4 linked regions of the Homo sapiens genome follow. Changing the gene in region 4 together with the main gene of any one other region gives a genetic interaction. Each region holds a gene or a part of one and is shown on either strand. Other genes may lie near its edges.

The links.
Region 1: changes in FH (region 4) and MAPK1 are lethal when combined (synthetic lethality), as found in Homo sapiens cells (one large-scale study listed by BioGRID).
Region 2: changes in FH (region 4) and COX16 together harm fitness less than expected from each alone (positive genetic interaction), as found in Homo sapiens cells (one large-scale study listed by BioGRID).
Region 3: changes in FH (region 4) and TOP2A are lethal when combined (synthetic lethality), as found in Homo sapiens cells (one large-scale study listed by BioGRID).

Annotation. Positions count from the first base shown.
Region 1 is NC_000022.11:21,787,646-21,791,145, reverse strand, and holds part of MAPK1 (mitogen-activated protein kinase 1), read left to right. Parts: intron 1-2,337; coding exon 2,338-2,452; intron 2,453-2,757; coding exon 2,758-2,889; intron 2,890-3,500. UniProt on the Homo sapiens protein: Serine/threonine kinase which acts as an essential component of the MAP kinase signal transduction pathway. MAPK1/ERK2 and MAPK3/ERK1 are the 2 MAPKs which play an important role in the MAPK/ERK cascade.
Region 2 is NC_000014.9:70,324,581-70,328,683, forward strand, and holds the end of COX16 (cytochrome c oxidase assembly protein COX16 homolog, mitochondrial isoform 1 precursor), read right to left. Parts: intron 1,870-4,103; coding exon 1,753-1,869; 3' UTR 501-1,752; downstream 1-500. Other genes in the region: SYNJ2BP-COX16 protein, read right to left, coding at 1,753-1,869.
Region 3 is NC_000017.11:40,393,897-40,397,396, forward strand, and holds part of TOP2A (DNA topoisomerase 2-alpha), read right to left. Parts: intron 2,570-3,500; coding exon 2,387-2,569; intron 1,644-2,386; coding exon 1,553-1,643; intron 1-1,552. UniProt on the Homo sapiens protein: Key decatenating enzyme that alters DNA topology by binding to two double-stranded DNA molecules, generating a double-stranded break in one of the strands, passing the intact strand through the broken strand, and religating the broken strand.
Region 4 is NC_000001.11:241,502,756-241,506,255, forward strand, and holds part of FH (fumarate hydratase, mitochondrial), read right to left. Parts: intron 3,414-3,500; coding exon 3,248-3,413; intron 1,491-3,247; coding exon 1,287-1,490; intron 1-1,286. UniProt on the Homo sapiens protein: Catalyzes the reversible stereospecific interconversion of fumarate to L-malate. Experiments in other species have demonstrated that specific isoforms of this protein act in defined pathways and favor one direction over the other.

The sequences.
Region 1 (3,500 bases), on a different chromosome or scaffold from region 4:
CAGCCTGGGTGACAAAGCAAGACTCCGTCTCAAAAAAAAAGGACGGGTTCTCATTCTGTCACCCAGGCTGGGGTACCGTGGCACCATCTCGGCTCACTGCAACCTCCGCCTCCTGGGCTCAAGGCCATCCTCCCACCTTAGCCTCCCAAGTATCTGAGACTACAGGCACGTGCTACTGCTCATGGCTGATTTACTTATTTATTTTTGTGCTTTTCATAGAGACAGGTTGTTGTGTTTCTTTAGTCTCCTTTAAGAGTGCAGATGAGCTATTTTGTAGAATGCCCCTCAGTTTTGGGTCATGCATTTTTAACATGAATACCAGAAAAGCACTTCATTGTATTAGAAGGCACTTCTGGAGCCAGGTATGGTGCCTCATGCCGTAATCCCAGCTCTTTGGGAGGCTGAGGCAGGAGGATCATTTGAGCCCAGGAGTTTGAAACCAGCCTGGGCAAATAGTGGGACCCCTTCTCTACAAAAAATTTAAAAATCAACCAGGTGTGGTGGTGTATGCCTGTGGCCCACCTACTGTGTGCCAGCTACTCAGTAGTGCCAGCTACTCAGGACCTGGCTGAGGTGAGAGGATCACCTGAGACAAGGAAGTTGAATTTGCAGTGAGGCATGATTACACCATTGCACTTCAGCCTGAGTGACAGAGTGATGACACCATCTCTTAATTTTAAAAGAGTCAGCTTATATTCCTTGGAGAAACATCTTTTTTGCACCATTGTTATGATTCAGACAGAATCCTTCCATGATTTTTTTTTTTTTTTTTTAATTTTTAGAGAAAGGGTCTCACTCTGTCACCCAGGCTGGAATGCATTGGCTCGGTCACAGCTCACTGCAGCCTCCAATCCCTGGGCTTAAGTGATCCTCCCACCTCAGCCTCCCGAGTAGCTGGGACTGCAGGTGTGAGCCACCATGTGTGGCAAAATAATAATAATAATGATAATAATAATAATAATTAGTTAATACCCAGTGTTGTTGAGGACATGAGGAAATGCATTTTCTTTCACATGCTGCTATTAGGAGTGTAACAGTGCAACTGCAGTCATAGTTCACTGCAGCCTCAAACTCCTGGCCTCAAGCAGTACTCCCACCTCAGCCTCCCAAAGTATCCTCCCATGACTTCTAACAGGATTCCTTTAAAAGAAAACATATTCCTGAAAAATGAATAGGAAAAGAAGATGAGAATTCTTTTATTTTATTTTATTTGTTATGTTATGTTATATGTTATGTTATGTTTTATGTTATGTTTATGTTATGTTATGTTATGTTATGTTATGTTATGTTATGTTATGTTATATGTTATGTTATGTTATTTTTGGAGATGGAGTCTCCCTGTGTTGCCCAGGCTGGAGTGCAGTGGTGCAATCTCGGCTCACTGCAACCTCTGCCTCCTAGGTTCAAGCAATTCTCCTGCCTCTGCCTCCCAAGTAGCTGGAACTATGGGTGCCCACCACCACGCCCGGCTAATTTTTGTAGTTTTAGTAGAGACAGGGTTTCACTATGTTGGCCAGGCTGATCTTGAACTTCTGACATCAGGTGATTCGCCCGTCTCGGCATCCCAAAGTGCTGGGATTACAGACGTGAGCCACCATGCCCAGCTGAGAATATTTTAGAAGAGATTGGTAAAATATGATGGAGCTAGCACACACTCCCCCAAACCCAGAAAAGGTTTTTAGACCTTTTTTCTTTTTCCAGCTCCAATTTATGACAATTCTAAATCTGTCTCTCAAATTGTTTCAAAAAAGGACGGATGTATACTTTGGAAATTCTAATTTAATAAGTTAATCAACTTTGTGGGTTTGTTGTTGTTTTGAGACAGAGTCTCGCTCTGTCACCCAGGCTGGAGTGCAGTGGCACGATCTTGGCTCACTGCAACCTCTGCCTCCTGGGTTCAAGCAATTCTCCTGCCTCAGCCTCCCACGTAGCTGGGATTACGGGCACCCACTACCATGCCCGGCTAATTTTTTTGTATTTTTAGTAGAGATGGGGTTTCACCATGTTGGCCAGGCTAGTCTCAAACTCCTGGCCTCAAGTGATCCGCCCGCCTCGGCCTCCCAAAGTGCTGGGATTACAGGCATTAGCCACTGTGCCCAGCCCAAGTTAATCAACTATGAAGAGAAAAATAAAATCACATAATCTTGGTTGTTCAGCCTCTCATAAGAAAGCCAAATTGTTTTTTGCTTTTCCATGTTGTTTACTTGTATTTCTGAATTGTAGAGTCAAAGGAGAAGTTCAGAGTCCCATCAGCAATGCACCTGTCATACAGGAAGATCTCATCATGTCCTGTAACACCAGATACCATTTTCAGTCTTTTCTCTCTTTCTCCTGCAGGGCTACACCAAGTCCATTGATATTTGGTCTGTAGGCTGCATTCTGGCAGAAATGCTTTCTAACAGGCCCATCTTTCCAGGGAAGCATTATCTTGACCAGCTGAACCACATTTTGGGTAAGGTTCCCGAGCCCTTCAGGAGCTAGATTTACTCAAGTTTGTACAGCTTACATCAAAGTCACTTCATTAAATTAAGAAGAGTTCTAATATACTCTTTAACCTGTGGTAGGTGTGAATTTTTAACCTTCTCTGATTTAAAATGTTAAGGACTTTTGTGTAAAAACATAAGAAAGGTAAACATCAGGAGTGGTGATAAGCAACGGCTCATATCAATTATCAGGGTTCATTCCGACTCAGAGTTGATGGTGTGTAGTCATTTACCTTGGTCCTGATAACTAATAGCTAATTTTTTTATCTGATAGGTATTCTTGGATCCCCATCACAAGAAGACCTGAATTGTATAATAAATTTAAAAGCTAGGAACTATTTGCTTTCTCTTCCACACAAAAATAAGGTGCCATGGAACAGGCTGTTCCCAAATGCTGACTCCAAAGGTAAATGTTATTTCGTTGATTAGTTTTTTCTTAGGCTTAGCTTCGCGTTTATTTGTTAAATTGTTAGGTCACTAGCCTGAAAAATGAGCCTATGGCTATTGGATAATGCTTTCTTTAGTGCTCACTCTGAATTGTTGTCTTCCCCCTTTTTTTTTTTGGAAACAGTGGCAGTGCAGTAAGGGAACCTGGTAATGACGGTCTAGTTCTCCACCTTTTGGTTTCTTTGCTAATTTTAATTTGCATTAAGGTCACTTTTTTTTTGTTTTTGTTTGAGACAGTGTCTCACTCTGTCGCCCAGGCTGGAGTGTAGTGGCCCGATCTCGGCTCACTGCAACCTCCTCCTCCCGGGTTCAAGCGATTCTTCTGCCTCAGCCTCCCAAGTAACTGGGACTACAGACGCGTACCACCACGCCTGGCTCATTTTTGTATTTTTAGTAGAGACAGGGTTTCACCATGCTGGCCAGGCTGGTCTCGAACTCCTGACCTTTTGATCTGCCCACCTTGGCCTCCCAAAACTGGGATTACAGGCGTGAGCCACAGCGTTCAGCCTAAGGTCACATTTTTAGGTCTCAGGAAGTCTAGGACCCTGCAAACAAATTACACCTTTTCAT
Region 2 (4,103 bases), on a different chromosome or scaffold from region 4:
TTGCATTTCCTTCATAGTGATGTCAAACATTCTTTTCAGAGCTAATTTGCTATCAGTGTATCCTCTGTAGTGAAATGTTTCTATGTTTTTTGCCCATTTTCTAATTGGATATTTTTTAACTGAGTTTACAGAGTTCTTTACTCTAGGTATGAGTCTTTTGCCAGATATGTGGTTTACATGTGTTTTCTCTGTCTATATTTTTCATCCTTTTAACAGGGCCTTTGGCAAACAAAAGCTTGTAATATTGATGTGTCAATCTGTCAAGTTTTTCTTTTATCAATATTCTTTGGTAAGAGCTATTCGGTAAGTTGAAGCCTTTCTCCTGTGGTTTTTCCTAAAAGTTTTATACTTTTATGTTTTACATTTAAATCAATGATCCTTTTTTGAGTTACTTGTTTAATGAGTGAATAATAAGTGGAGACTTTTTTTCTCTGAAATCCAATTGCTCCCCCAGATAACTATCTTATGAATCATGTCTATCACAAATTATCACTAGATAATCAACTTAATTTACTTTTTATTAAAACCAACCTGCTGAAAAGAATACAAATTTTGACTAGGAGGAGAAAGGGGGAGTGGATTTATGATTTTATGGCAATTATAACAGGAGTGTTTCAATGGAGACTTTAGGCAACTAGAACTCAGCATGAAACCAGAAGGTAGAAGCTGATAAAGGCAGGGGTAAAAAGGAGAAAATGAGTTCAAAACAACTAACTTTCGGCCAGGCGTGGTGGCTCACACCTGTAATCCCAGCAATTTGTGAGGCCGAGGTGGGCGGATCACAAGGTCAGGAGATGGAGACCATCCTGGCTAACGTGGTGAAACCCCATCTCTACTAAATACAAAAAATTAGCCGGGTGTGACAGCATGTGCCTGTAGTCCCAGCTACTCAGGATGCTGAGGCAGGAGAATGGTGTGAACCCGGGAAGCAGAGCTTGCAGTGAGCAGAGATCGTGCCCCTGCACTCCAGCCTGGGCGAACAGAGCGAGACTATGTCTCAAAACAAAACAAAAACACTAGAGGGCAATTTTGCATGCAAATTATGCTAAGGCATAATTTTTAGTATTATCTTAGTATTTCTCAAAATGTAGTCATCTATGGATTTACTGAACAAATTTGCCATATCTGCTTATAATCATACACTACTTCATAATTTTTGACAACCATAAATAATATAATTTCCTTGACATGTTAATGGTATCATTGTAATTATCATGTGATGCTTTGGAGACTGATTATCATACTATGTGAGGCATTACAAAGAAAATCAAGACTCTTAGCAGACTGTGATCATTTTTCTTTCCCTAATAGATATGAGAGAAAATTACTGCTTGATTTTACTGTGAGAATTTGGATCCAGACCTACTGTCCTCATTAGGAATCAGAAATCAGAGAATCAGAAATCAGAATGAAATATCAAAATGATGCCCTAATGGCTATTGCAAAAGGAATATGTGGGTAGTTGGAGAGTGGAATACGTGACTCTGTTTTTGGAGCAGTATTCACATTTTTTATTTCGAGGTGTAAAATATACGTGGCCAACATTGTTACTTTCATCCACAGATGGAATAGCTGGGAAGTATAAAAACCTGTACATGACCTTTAGTGAAGATTATTTGTCATCAAATTACCCATATCCAAGTTTCCATGGGCCTGGAATTTCCTTTCCACTTGATAGAAGTATATATTAGGAAGTCCAGTTAATAATATTTTTATTTAAAAAAAAAAAAAAGGAAAAAAGAATCAGCAGAGTCAAGTTGTCTTAGTCTTAAGGCTTTCTGGATTTCTTCCTTGGAGGAGGTCAGGATCTTCCCAAGGCCTGGGTCCTCGAATATTCTTCCAGTCATCAAACTTGGAGTCTTTGATTTTCTATAGAACCACAAAAAATTAAAGTATAAATATTAGTATAAGAGCCTGTGGCTTTGATTAGGACACAACTAACTCAATGAATAAATGAGTAGAAAGTATCCGATAGGTCCTCGATTACAACTGTAGCAAATAAATCAACTACAATCATTGATGAAATGTCATCTTAAGATTTAGAACTTTTCATTTGTTACTGATGTTAATGCCTATCTTACGCCACCTTAACCGTAAAACTATTAAAATAGAGAAAGAGTCTACATGCCTTATTTTTGAGAGGACAAGGAAAAGGCTGAAGCTGGGAAAACAAAAGTACAAATCTGAAGGCTGATCCAGCACAGTGACTGAAAGGGTTATCAGGGATGATGGTAGAAAATAAGAAGAAAAGAACAAAGGGTGGAGACCCTAAAGTCTTCTACAAAAAAGAAAAGAGACCAAGATCATTTGTCTTACGCCTGGGCTTAGGAATGAAAAGACTTTCCTACAGCTATCTATCATAAGCAAAACACTTTTGGGCAACTGAAACTAACTGCAACTACATTATGGATCATCCTACCTTCATTTAGTCTGAAGTACCTCTCAAGCACAAAAATAGTTGGAATAAAAGGGAAGAAATAAATGTTTCTTCACCTTTCTCCTACTGACCACCACTCTGACATTAACTTTTACATATCTGCTGTTTTGGTTGTTCTGAAATAATTGAGTAAGATGGAAAAAAAAAGCTGTGAAAACATAGGATAGCTTATATCCAGAGACAGGGAAAATGGAATAAATTTACCTTGACACTTGGATACTAAGCATTACTCTCTTACTAACTAGCTATATAACCTTTGGAAAGTAATTTAAGCCACCTGGGCATTAACTCTCTCATAAGTAACAATGAAAAGGTTGGACCAAATACTCTACATTTGAGAGTCTTCAGCTCTCAAATTCTACAGGTCCTAGAAGAACTAGAAGGAAAATCTACTCCCAGACAAACTCTTCATAGCATCATTACTGGTATAGCACTTGTAGAACTACAAGTTAGCAAGTTACAGGATTTTTTTTTTTAATCAATGGGAAAGTAGTAAATGAAAATACTGTTCACTTATAGTTTTACCAGGAGTCTGTATTACATATATACATGAAGGAACAAAATTCAACTAATTTAGCATACAAGAAGAATTTAGATTATTTCATAAGTATAGTTATGAAATGATCTAAAGTTATTAAAAGATTTTAATAAAGAATAATGGCCATTATCCAGGTAACGTAAGATATGTATGCTTAACAGAACTGAAGAAAATTCTTAAATAACAAGTTCATGTAAAAGTAGTCTAGCCTTTACAGATCTTTGGTGAAGGAGATTCCTTGTAGAATTCTACAAAACGTGCACAGTGGCTGAAGAATGGGCTATGTAAATGTGCTGAGAAAAACCACCCAAGACATAACACTTCACAGCCAACTGGTATAGGCCTGAGTGTGGAACAGCGTCAAGAAATGCTGAGAAAAAACAGTGTCAAGAATATGGAGTTTCCAGGCCTGCCAGAGTGGAGACCTTTCTTTTAACATTTTGTTGCTACCCTGACATCCACCTAAGACACCAAAAGGACTGTTCTTCAGGAGTAAAAATTATGCCTGAGAATAAGATTTTTTTTTTTTTTTTTTTTTTTTTGAGACGGAGTCTCGTTCTGTCACCCAGGCTGGAGTGCAGTGGCGCGATAAGATTTTCTTTAGACTCACCCCAACAAAGCTTAAAGCCAAGCCTTGACAAGATTCTCTGGGGAGATAGTCTGGAGATTGAGTCCCAACAAGGGAGAAGGGCCAAGGAAAGATAGCTAGCCCTTCAACAGATACTTCCCTACAAAGCACAAAATGAAGTTTAAGGTGATTAGCTAACAATTAAATTGTCAAAATAAAAATCAACACTCTTCAGAATTTTCTTCAGTGTATTATTCACAATGACTACCTTTCAATACAAAATGACCAGACATATACAAAGAAACAGGAAAATATAATCCAGTCAAAAAAATGACAAACTCAAAGACATGAAGAACATCCTCACCACATCCCATAATATAGCGTGCTGTTAAACTCCTTGATTTTTGCTAATTAGATGGGTGAAAAGTGATACCTCGTTAGACTTTGACATTCCTATTATGATAAATTGAGCATCTCTTCATATGTTTAAGAATGATACTTATTTCCTTTTGTCCAAAAGTTTTACATGCTATGCTTTCCCATGTTCTTACTGAACAAAT
Region 3 (3,500 bases), on a different chromosome or scaffold from region 4:
AATACAAAAATTATTTGGGCATGGTGGTGCGTGCCTGTAATCCCAGCTCCTCGGGAGGCTGAGGCAGGAGAATTGCCTGAACCTAGCAGGCGGAGGTTGCAGTGAGCCGAGATCTCACTACTACTGCATACTGCATGCCAGCCTGGGCGACAGAGCGAAACTCTGCCTCAAAAAAAAAAAAAAAAAAAGAATGAAGTACTAATATATGGGCTGCCACATGGGTTACCCTTGAAAATGTGTTAAGTAAAGAAGTCAGCTCCAAAAGACCACATATTATATGATTTAATTTATAGGAAATGCCCCTAGATTTTTTAGTGGTCACCCAGTGGAGAGGAGTTGGTGGCAAATGGCAAATGATTGTTAATGAGTTCAGTTTTCTTGGGGGGCAATAAATTGTATTAAAACTGTTTGTCTATACTAAAACCACTGAATGGCATACTTTATTTTTATTTTTGAGTTGGAGTCTTGCTCTGTCACCCAGGCTGGAGTGCAATGGCACAGTCTTGGCTCTCTGCAACCTCTGCCTCCTGGGTTCAAGCGACACTCGTGCCTCAGCCTCTCGAGTAGCTGGGACTACAGGCACGCACCACCACACTCAACTAATTTTTGTATTTTTAGTAGAGATGGGGTTTCACCATGTTGGCCAGGGTGGTCTTGAACTCCTGACCTCAAGTGATCCGCCAGCCTCAGCCTCCCAAAGTGCTGGGATTACAGGCATAAGCCATGGCGCCCAGCCAAATGGTATACGTTAAATGGGCAAATTTGGCATGTGAATATCTCAATAAAGATGTTTCAAAAAAAGTAGACAGTAAAGGCATTATCAAATGATTAACAGAATTATTAATTCTATTTAGTTCATTGAGTGGACATTATTTATATCCGAAGCATGATGTTGAACTCTAGAGATACTACAAACATTACTAATATGTAGTCACTTTTCTTAAGAAACTTTGTATACTAGAACCTCGTAAGTGGCTAGAAAATGAAATCTAATAAACTGGGTATTTTCTTAGATCCCAATTAAGGAATTCAAATTAACAAACTACTTCATTACAAAATATTTTCTATAATGAATCAAATCCCAAGGACGATATTAAAGAGGTCCAGGCCAGGGGCAGTGGCTCACGCCTGTAATCCCAGCACTTTGGGAGGCCAAGGCGGGCAAATCACAAGGTCAGGAGTTTGAGACCAGCCTGACTAACATGGTGAAACCCCGTCTCTACTAAAAATACAAAAAGCAGCCAGGCGTGGTGGCATGCACCTATAATCCCAGCTACTCAGGAAGCTGAGGCAGGAGAATCGCTTGAACCCAGGAGGTGAAGATTGCAGTGAGCCGAGATTGTGCTATTGCACTCCAGCCTGGGCAACAAGAGTGAAACTGTCTCAAAAAAAAAAAAAAAAAAAAAAAGAGGTCCAAGTAGAATTGAGATACAGTCCTCTTTCACGTTTCTCAATTCAACAAAAAGGTTTTGAACATCTATGTGGAATGTACTAGGTAACAAACACAATTTAATCTTCACTTTATACCATTTTTCTAAAAATGTTGTAATACCTGGTTCTCTTTTCTGTTTCTTTTCTAATCTTTGTTTTAGGCCTTCTAGTTCCACACCATCTTCTTGAGGGCTTCCTTCAGTATTTTCATTCTAAAAGATAGCAAAGTTAGGGTTGGATATAGAATAAATTCTGAACTATGGGATTAGAGATTTTATACATTTTTGGCTGGGAGCGGTGGCTCACGCCTGTAATCCCAGCACTTTGGGAGGCCGTGGTGGGCAGATCTCTTGAGGTCAGGAGTTCGAGACCAGCCTGGCCAAGATGGTGAAACCCCATCTCTACTAAAAATACAAAAATTAGCTGGGTGTGGTGATGTGCCCCCAACTACTTGGGAGGCTGAGGCACGAGAATCGCTTGAATACGGGAGGCGGAGGTTGCTGTGAGCTGAGATCCTGCCATTGCACTCCAGCCTGGGTAACACAGCGAGACTCCATCTCAACAACAACAACAAAAAAATTTTATACATTTTTTTTTCAATTTTAAGTGGACATATGCATCAATATTTTATGCATAATATTTTTAAGAGTATTACCTCTTTTTTTTTTTTGAGATGGAGTTTTGCTCTGTTGGCCAGGCTGGAGTGCAGTGGTGTGACCTTGGCTCACTGCAACCTCTGCCTCCCGGGTTCAAGCGATTCTTCTGCCTCAGTCTCCCGAGTAGCTGGGATTACAGGCGCCTGCCACCATGCCCGCCTAATTTTTTTAATTTTTAGTAGAGACAGGGTTTCAACCATGTTGGGAGGCTGGTCTTGAACCACTGACCTCAAGTGATCCACCCACCTTGGCCCCCAAAGTGCTGGGATTATAGGTGTGAGCCACCACAAGAGTATTACCTTAATTTTCTTTTTATTTTTCTTTTCTGCCTCTGCTTTCATTTCTATGGTTATTCGTGGAATGACTCTTTGACCACGCGGAGAAGGCAAAACTTCAGCCATTTGTGTTTTTTTCCCCTTGGCCTTCCCCCCTTTCCCAGGAAGTCCGACTTGTTCATCTTGTTTTTCCTTGGCTTCAACAGCCTACAGAAGGGATATAAGAAAGCAAGTTTAAATGTTAACAAAAACATTACAATATCTAAACACCCAACAGTTAAACTGATTTCATTTTGTTACATCTTAAAAACTAGTGATAAATTGCTCCATAACCTAGTATACTATCAACAATAGTGAAGATGTAATTAAAACACACCTTGAAAAGGAAGGTGTGGAGACAGAAGGACTGGGTTTTATTCCTGATTCTACCACTTAACCTTTTTGAGGAAAACAAGGGAGAAACTAAAAATAAAACATGTATATACATATATATTTGTAAACTCACATACAAAATATGAAAGGAAGTGATGCACACTTATCCAACCAACTGATTACAATGAGCTAGGCATCTATACTGAAGTGCAGTAATACAAATTTGCATGTTAAATTTAAGAAATAAAGCTTTTGGTGGTTTTTTTTTTGTTTTTTTTTTTTTAAGAGACACGCAGGCTGAGTACAATGGTACATGATCATAGTTCACTGCAGCCTTGAACTCCTGGTCTCAAGTGATCCTCCCACCTTGGCCTCCGGAGTAGCTGAGACTATAGGCCCACACCACCATGCCTGGCTATTTAAAAAAAACATTTTGTAGAGATGAGGTCTTGCTACGTTACCCAAGCTGGTTTTGAACTCCTAATCTCAAGTGATCCTCCTGCCTCAGCCTCCCAAAGCACATTGGGATTACAGGTGTGAGCCACAGTGCTGGCCTTTTTTCTTATGTTAAAATAATGTTGAGAAACAAATGTTATTAGGAAGATTTAAGTAACAAATAACCTTCTGAAACCATCTGGATAGCCCTGCTTTCTCCTTTTTTTTTTTTTTTTTTTAGATGGAGTCTTGCTCTGTCACCCAGGCTGGAGTACAGTGGCGCAATCTCGGCTCACTGCAACTTCTGCCTTCTGGGTTCAAGCAATTTTCT
Region 4 (3,500 bases):
AAGGCTAACGAGTAGCCACAACTACACATTAAATATAGTTCTCCACCTTCATGATTTTCATTCATTCTATACATATTTATGGAGCCAGGCACTCAATATACAACACTGAATAAGAAAGATGCAGGCCCTGCCCTCGCAGAACTTGGAGGCTAGGGAGAAAGAGCTGGCAATTATAAGGGGTAAATACAGAGTAGTGTATGCTGCTATCAGAACACTTATAAAAGCGACCCTTCACTAACACATGGGAGGCTTCCTAGGGGAAGGTGATGCTAAGCTAAAATTTTCCTATTTATCACGAGTCTCTGGAACCCCACTACCCTGCTCACACTCCTTGGACAAGCTCCAAGTTTGAATCAAACAACCCAGATTCCTCTGACCAGTACAAGTTAACACACTGGAAAGATTATTGGGTGGATTATTGCCTTTATCTGTGACTCCCCCAGTTCTCTTTCTTTTGGCAATCACCCTGGATTTGCAATCAACTAAACCTTTATGTCATTCTTCAACATGAAGTACTTTAAAACAAAATTTCATCTCTTCTTATTCTACAGATCCATAATTTCCATAAAAATCTAGAGTCAGGCCTTTCTCACTATTAAAAGTTACATTGTCAGTTTTAGCCCAAGCTACAGTGGCCTTTATGGATCTCAGTTCTGTCATCCATAGTATTGCTATCCCAACTTTGTTAACTGTTAATATGATTAGCATGTATTCTCTTCCTTCACCCTCAGTCACCAGTAAAGTGTTGAAGGGCAGAGCCCTTCAGCTTGTTACCAATATATTCTTCTAGACTGAAGTCACTTCATTAGTCACTTCTGAAATGTCACTGTTCACCCAGCTACATTCATCTGCCAGCACTGCCCACGCTTCTCCACTGGAATCAATGACTATCATGCGAATCTATCAAATGACTTGCTGAAATCCAGACATACACTGTTGTGTCACTTGCTATATCTAACAGGCATATAACGGAATGCAAAAAATGAAATAAGTGAAGTTTGGTATGACTTCTTTTTATTCAACCCGCGCTGATCACTTTAACAGCCTGCTCTACATTTTCTAATGTGGGATTCGAAATACTTGCTGCTAAGTCAGATTCTTTCTTCCTATCTTGTCAGGTGACGTGCCCAGCAGTCCTGACCAGAGGACCACAGACATGCTGGAACAGTGCGCCTTGCGCATCCAGCTGCGGGATAACTTTAAACAAAGAGAGACATGGTCCATAGCTAAGAATGCCTAGGACCTAGTCAAGTTTTAGCTCCAACATTTACTAGCTATGTGATTACCTGGCATGATACTGCTTCCTGGTTCATTTTCAGGCAAGATCAATTCTCCCAGACCTGACCGAGGACCAGAACCCAAAAATCGAATATCATTTGCTATCTTCATCAGACTGCAGGCAGTAGTGTTCATGGCTCCACTGAGCTCAACCAGAGCGTCATGAGCAGCCAGAGCTTCAAATTTATTCGGAGCAGTGACAAAAGGCAAGCCTAAAGAAAAGAAAAATATCCTAGATGGGTGAACAAGTTAAACTAAACATTTTTCTACCATTAGCAAGTGAAACAGAAAGTTCCAATATACGAAAAAATAAAAATTTTACTTCAGAAAAAAATGTTTACTTAAGACTCAAATTTTGTCTACATTTTTAAAAGAAGTCCTAAAGGAGTAGAAAGAATCTGGTATTACATTTTTTAAGTTTTTTCAGACAGGGTCTCACTCTGCTGCCCAGGCTGGAGTGCAGTGTGGCTCAATCACAGCTCACTGTAGCCTCAACCTCCATGGCTCAGGCAATCCTCCCACCTCAGCCTCCAGAGTAGCTAAGACTACAGGTGCACACCACCACGCCCAGCTAATTCTTTAATTTTTAGTAGAGATGGGGTTTCGCCATGTTGCCCAGGCTGGTCTCAAACTCCTAGGCTCTAGCGATCCACCCACCTTGGTCTCCTGAAGTGCTGGAATTACAGGAGTGTAATTCCACTGTGCTTAGCCAGGCACTACATTTTAAAAAGATGAAATAACAAGTATGATAAATGTACTGAAAGAAAAAACACAATCCTACTGCAAACACACGTATATGATGCCTGACTATGCTTGAGTAAAAAGTATATGGGAATTCATTCTGGTTTATACCACACTCCTTTCCTAATACCTTTTTTCTTTTTTTTTTTTTTGAGACAGAGTCTTGCTTTTTTAGCCAGGCTGGAGGGCAGTGGTACGATCTTGGCTCATTGCAACCTCCTCCTCCAGGGTTCCAGCAATTCTCCTGCCTCAGCCTCCCAAGTAGCTGGGGTTACAGGCGCCCGCCACCATGCCCGGCTAATTTTTTTAAATTTTTACTAGAGACAGGGTTTCGCCATGTTGACCAGGCTGGTCTCGAACTCCTGACCTCAAGTGATCTGCCCATCTTGGCCTCCCAAAGTGCTAGGATTACAGGTGTGAGCCCCCATGTCCGGCCCCTAATACAATTTTTTAAAGTTTCTTTGTCCACTTTACTGTGCTTCATCCTCTCCCCTAGCCAGGAGCCCACAAGATCCCCTATAAAAACAGTGTGCTAAAATGAGTTAGATGTTCTCAGTTAACCCCCATGTTAAAAATTTTATAAATCTACATTTGCCAAACCCTAAAAGTAGAGTTCTTTTCTATTAAAATATGGTTTAAAGACAAATCAGCTGGTAAGCTATCATGTGCAGTGTATAATTATCTCTACCCTAACCGTCTGGTAACATCTACATCTTAATGAGAGTTTTCTGAAGATGACAACTTGGCCCTAATAATAGTTATCATTATCTAAAGTATAATACTCTCTCTACTAAAGGAAAGACATGGTTCAAAAAGGTCAATAATTCAAAGAATTATCACAGCATGACATAATAGGAAAAAAAAGAAATTAAGTCTGTCTACAACATATTTACTATTCAAATAACTTACTCAACACTCAGTTTTTTCTGCCTATTTTGAAAACTGCTATTCAAAACTTTAAAGGGAAATTAATTGAAAACTAACTAGTAAACAAAGCTAACACTGGTAGATTTTAATGGCATGCTGTATAAACTCCTACATGGAACATTTTTTAAAAGGCAAATAATTAACATTATAACTTCAGAAATATACTTAAAACACATGTTTGATGGAAAAATATCATTTCTAACTTTAAATTCACAAGAATTCAAGACAGGAACACTCAGAAAATGTACAGACCACGTATAATGAGAAATGAAAATGAGAAATAATTCACGTGATCACTAACCTGTAAGTGCAGCCACTTTTGCAGCAACCTTTTCTGCAAAGCCAATTCTAGTATTTAAACCTGTACCAACAGCAGTGCCTCCAGCTGCGAGCTCATAGATTCTTGGCATGGCAGCTTTTATTCTTGTCATTGCATATTTTACTTGTTGAACATAACCACTAAATTCCTGAAAAGAAAAGAAAATTAAGGTAAGAATAAGTAATTCCTAATAGCTTACAAGTTACTCTAACTGCATTAAATAGAAATTTTTAAA